Linked DNA regions of Homo sapiens: region 1 is linked to region 2. Evidence: fine-mapped expression QTL. Tissue or cell type: whole blood. Region 2 holds a variant in brackets; the other region holds the start of a gene. All regions are shown on one strand. Distances are between the middles of the regions.

Region 1 (2,762 bases), 180 kb after region 2:
CTACTCTCTTTAGGGATATCTTATCTGCTATGCCCTCAAGATATTGTAAATACTTCAGTAAGAGCAAATTTTGCCTCATGCAAAAAAGAATTTTTTAAATCAGTGTGCATAAGAATGCAGAATATAAAGATGGTCTTGTCCTACAGATGTTAAGGTAACAGAACAACTCATAAAAAGACAGTCCTCTAACTCCTTTAGCTGAGATATGGTTAGCTTTGCCCCCATATATATCATCCCCTGCTCCAATCTCCAAAAACTTCCTTCTATGAATGTGTCAATAAGACTGATGATATTGCTATTAAAACTCAGAACTTGACTGCTCATTTATAAATTGAAAATTCAAAACGACAAAGCCCAGTGCTCGCTGATTTCTACACATACAGGCATAATAAAAGAGAACTACGCTATTACAAAGAACTATGCATCTGGTCCCGCCCCCAAATACTAGAGTCCAGTCGTAGGGGTCATTCTTTCACTCAACAAACTTTTTATTATGCGCCTACTGTGTACTAGGCATTGCACAGACAGTTAACAAAACAGACCAAAAAATCCTTTCCCTCCTAATAACAGGAGCGTGCCCGTAAAGGCTGCCGAGGGACCACGTCGTGGCCGCGCCTCCGTCCCATAGTGGTACTCGTACAGACAGCCCAGCCGGCCCACGGGCCGCCGAGACTTGCAGCCCTGACACACGGCCTTGGCCTCTGGGTTCCTAACCCGGACCCTGGGGCAGGCTGGGAAGCCCTCCTACCCCCACTGTCTCGCGCCAGCCCGGCCAGGAGGCCACGAGGGCCAAGCGCATACCCAGGCGCGCCCCCGCCACCAGGCGCGCCCCCGCGCCACCATCCGCCCGTCCCGCGCAGGCGCCGGCGCCGCCGCCCGTCTGGCGCGCGCCTGGCACGCTCTCTTGCGGCTCTTGACTGGCGGCCTCGGCCCCACTTGCCCCAGTTACACGCGGTCCCAGCCCCACCAGCCGTCGCCTCTTACCGGCGCGCTGGCCCCTGCGCCCCAGCCTCCCGGCTCCCGGCGGCTGCCTCGCGGGGCGCCTCCTCCTCCTCGGCCTCCGCGAGCGCCGCGGAAGCCCCGGCCACGGCCACGGCCCCGGCGTCCGCCTCCGTCCCCGCCGCCGCCTCCGCCGCCGCCTCTGGCTACCGCCGCTGCGGCTCCGGGCCGCTCGCTGTGGCGATCTCCGCCAGGCCGGCCGCGGCCTGGCCGCCGCCCACGGCCTCCCCGAGCTCCTCGCTCCGCCTGCATCTGGCCGCCGCTGGCGGTGCTGAGCGCGCGGGAGCCGAGCTGCGGCGGAGACGCCCTGGCCCCACCGGAAGCGGGCCGCACGGAGGAGCCGCGAGCGAAAGGCGCCCGGTAGCAGCGAGGCGCGGGGTGCGGGGCTAGGGATCGAGGCCGGCCGCAGCGGAGCGGGGCGGGGCGGGGCGGCCGGCGTCCCGCAGGTGGGGCCGGAACCGGGACCGCGGGAAGGCCGGACCGCTGGGAGCTGGAAGTGGTGGGGGTCTGCAGCGGGGCGGGGGGATTCTCAAGGCATCAGAGATAGGTTGGGGGAGAGACCGTGCTAAGTGCAAGGACGAGTCATAAAATAAAATTTGTATGATGTGAACTCTCGGAAAAAAAAAGTTTAAACGTATGTATTTGCATAAGAAAAGGTCTAAACAAATACATACTAAAATGTTAGTGGTTAACTGCTGAGATTTGAAGTGAGTTAATTTTTTTTCCTCCGTTTAATCTAATTTTCAGCAACGAATGTGTATCATTTTAAAACTATACCGAAGTCAGGGTTCAGGAGGTGTGGATGTAAAGACAAGAGTTTGTGTCTGGTGAGAGGTGGACTGCAGCACGTGGGAGAGAGAACAGTGCGAAACTGGGAGATGGCTAGAAAGGGCGTCAAAGTCCTCAGCAGAATTTCTGTAGAAATGACTACTACAGCTGACATTTATTGAGCACATGAGTATTTCATTCTCATAACAGCTCTATGAGGTAGGGATGACTGTCATCCTTATTCTGCAGTGAGGTAACAGCCTTGGAAAGGTTAAAAAAAACTTGACTAAAGTGAATAACTAGGTAGTGGTGGAACTGGCATTCTAAGGCGGTCTCACTCCAGTCCCTTCTTTCAACCAAGGAGAAAACAGGAAGGGGAACAGTTGGTTACACAGATGCATGAAAGCAGTTTTTAACTTGGGACTGAAACCACCTGAAAATAATGAAAGCAAGGGCTAAAATGTCAGCCTAGCAGAATAAGTGTTTTCTTCCCCCTCAGTACTTTCTGGTTCTTTCCTATATCCATACATAGTTAATACTTTTCATTGCTTCTAATTGCCTACTCTGCATCAGGCACAGTGCTATGTCCTGAAATTAAAAACAAAAACAAAAAAAAAACCTTGCCCCTGCCCTCAAGTAGCTCACTGCCCACAAGGAAGATAATCTAGTCGTGTGAATAGATGATTACAGTACCGTGTTGCTGAGTGCAGTGAGAGATTCAAGATCAAGGTCCAAAGAAGAAAAGTTAAATTATATTTAAACGGGTTACCCAAGGCTTCATGAGAAATAGACCCCTGAGCTAAAGCCTAATGGTTGAGTAGGAGTTTGCCTGGTTGGTAAATGGGAGTAGGGGCGCCTTCCAGACAGGGGGAACTATTGAAGGATTGTCAACTCCAGAGAAACAGTCTTAAAAATAGTAACACTTGTAGAGCACTTATATGCACCAAACACTATTCTACATACTTCTCATATCACTTCATTTGGGACTAATAGCT
Region 2 (2,762 bases):
ACCCACTGCGGGGCCAGCCCACCCACTGCGGGGCCACCCCGCCCCACCACCTCACTGGGAAGAAGGGCTGTGTGGGGGTGCTCTTGAGAACTGTAGAGTTAGTTACAGAGCACAGCAGAGATTAAAGTAGAAGACAGATGTCTTCTCCAAACAGGAGAGTGTCCTGGGAAGACAGAAGTGATGGAGGTAGTTTTCATTACCACACATCTAAGCCCCGTGGAAAGGGAAGCACCCTGCACAGTGGCGTCATCATTCATCTATTTCCGGGGTAAAGATGAGACATTATTTTATTTTTTTGAGATGGAGTTTTGCTTTTGTCGCCCAGGCTGGAGTGCAATGGCGTCATCTCAGCTCATTGCAACCTCCGCCTCTCAGGTTCAAGTGATTCTTCTGCCTCAGCCTCCCTAGTAGCTGGGATTACAGGCATGCACCACCACACCTGGCTAATTTTGTATTTTTTTTAGTAGTGATGGGGTTTCTCTATGTTGGTCAGGCTGGTCTCAAACTCCCGACCTCAGGTGATCTGCCCACCTCTGCCTCCCAAAGTGCTGGGATTACAGGCGTGAGCCACTGCACCTGGCCAAGATGAGACATTATTATGAATGAAACCAGTGTCTAAATTTCATGGAAGTTGAGCTTTGATCATCGTCTCTCAGAACAGAGAGCAAAGTCCCATGGACCGGGATTAAGCACTTGATTTATTTCAGCAAGCCAGTCGGAGGTTCTTTGCGGACAGCCAGCAGCAGGATCAGGTTGGAGGTGGGGAGGGGGAGTCCCGTCAGGCCAGATCTTCGTGAGAAAAAAGGCACTGCCCAGAGTAAGCCAGCTTGGCTGCAGCAACATCGCCAGTTTATTTTGACCAGATTTCAGAAAAAGAATCTGTGTCTCAGGGACAGGGGACAGTGAAATGCCCAGTCTGTGAGCATCTCCATAAAAGAGGTAACACTTCTTGACGAAAAACTCTCCATGTGCTTTCTCGGGCCAAGCACCGTCATGAGACAGCAATCCTAGCCCCTAGAGTACTGGCATGACCAGCGTGTCTTCAGGCTGCCCCTGGCTTTTGATTTTCCAGGTGTAAGACGGTCCTTTCTCTGTGAGTCTAATCAACCCATCAGGTGGAGAGACAGAGGGTGCCCTGCTCAGGGAGCCCGTGCCTAGATTGGCTCAAACCTGCAGAACAGGAGGAGCAGAAAAGTCCATTACCTTTGACCTTCCTGCTGCAGGAATCCCTGCCCTACCAGGTGTAAGGGGAATGTGGATGAAGAAGAGGGGGGACCTTTTTGCAGTTTATAGCACAGCCTGAAGGCCAGGCTAACACTCTTAAAATTAAATGAGGAAAAATTATTATATGGCATAGGCCATACTCATCAAGGCTTAAAGATCTTTTAACTTATATACACCTTTAATGGGCCTAAAAATACCTTTTAAAAGCCTAAATGTAACGACAGTCTTTCCATCTTTGTAGATATCAAACTGTCCAGAGGGTGCAGTGGACAGCAGCTAGCAGCATGAATACTGGCACCTCTGAAGAGTTCCCCTCTC[G/C]TGGCTTAGGGCTGCCACAATCTGACCGAATCATATGAATGATCTGAGCATCTTGCTAAAAACAGAACTGTGACTTTTGCCTAAATCCCCCTTATTTTTCTTCTCTAGTGTTACCTTTTCCACATGTACGTGGGAGTGAGAGCAGGAGGTGGCATTGGTGATGAAATTGAAGACCCTGCTGGTGATCCTTATGAAATGTATCGCATTGTCTTTGACATTACCTTTTTCTTCTTCGTCATTGTCATCTTGCTGGCCATCATTCAAGGTATGATTGCCAATTGTGTTGAGTATGAACAGGGTTTAATCTAGTTCTTTTTGCTTTCTTCCATCTATGACTTAATTGGTTTATGAAGAAGCGTGTGAATTCATTTACTTGTTAATTTAGCAAGAACTAATTTAGCATCTACTATACCTGAGGCTTTGGCTATATATAAAGCCAAATACACACCCAGGCACAGTTATAAGAAGCTTCATCCATACAGAGGAACCCCTTCCTTCTGTTCCTCTACTCTGAATTATTTACTCCTCACTTCTGCTTCTGAGATCTCTCCTGTGGCTAGTCTTGTCCTCTTCATTTTCTTCCCAGAGAGGGAGGTAGGGTAGGAGCAGAGGAGCTGGACAGTGCAGGGGAGGGGAGGGAAAGAATGATATTTTAGTCAACAGCTTGTCAAGATTGGAGAAAGATGATAAATTTAGCTTGAGTCATGCTGAGTGGAGGAACCTGTAAGACATGCAGGTGTTGAGGGCTAAGAAGTGAAGTAACTGAGGAGGAACCCTGATCCACCTCAGTGTCAGAGGTGCTAGGAGAAGAGGGAGAGCCTATCACACAGACTGAACACAAATAGCTAAGCAAAATAGGAGACCAACCAGGGAGAAGTAGAAAGGAAAGAGTTTCAGGGAGGAGCAAGTAGTTAACAGCACTGCATGGTGTAGAAAGGTAGAGTTAGGAGGAACAATGAGAAATTGTTAGCCAGGATGTAACACAAAGAAACACGAGTATTATTTTTCTAATTTTGCTTTGATAATTCACTTTTTTTTTTTAACAGAACAAAGTAGCTTCTTCCTTTATCATTCCTCTACCCCTGAACCACTACACAGATTGCTTTGTCTTTGTATTTAACATTCCAGGTCTTATTATTGATGCTTTCGGAGAGCTAAGAGACCAGCAGGAACAAGTACGAGAAGATATGGAGGTAATGTTACTCTAACTACTAATCCCA

What was found. PIP is the estimated chance that this variant, and not a neighbour inherited with it, causes the effect. A credible set is the group of variants that fine-mapping cannot tell apart.
Region 1: AVEN starts here. The variant in region 2 is the best candidate, but not a certain one, in a credible set for the expression of AVEN in whole blood (TOPMed, PIP 0.52).

The regions. Positions count from the first base shown.
Region 1 is chr15:34,037,796-34,040,557 of GRCh38, forward strand. It overlaps AVEN (apoptosis and caspase activation inhibitor), which reads right to left and starts at 1,409. Exons shown (of 6, transcript NM_020371.3): 1 at 985-1,409. The coding sequence starts at 1,251. The region is part of intron 1 of CHRM5 (cholinergic receptor muscarinic 5); the gene reads left to right. RefSeq lists silencers at 382-441, 792-851, 942-1,151, 1,332-1,501.
Region 2 is chr15:33,857,925-33,860,686 of GRCh38, forward strand. RYR3 (ryanodine receptor 3) reads left to right here. Exons shown (of 104, transcript NM_001036.6): 100 at 1,651-1,807; 101 at 2,671-2,735. It also overlaps a transcript of AVEN not described here. Among named protein-coding and RNA genes, the nearest start is that of CHRM5, 110 kb to the right of the region's middle. RefSeq lists an enhancer at 397-1,596. The variant G/C (reference allele first, on the strand shown) is at 1,543.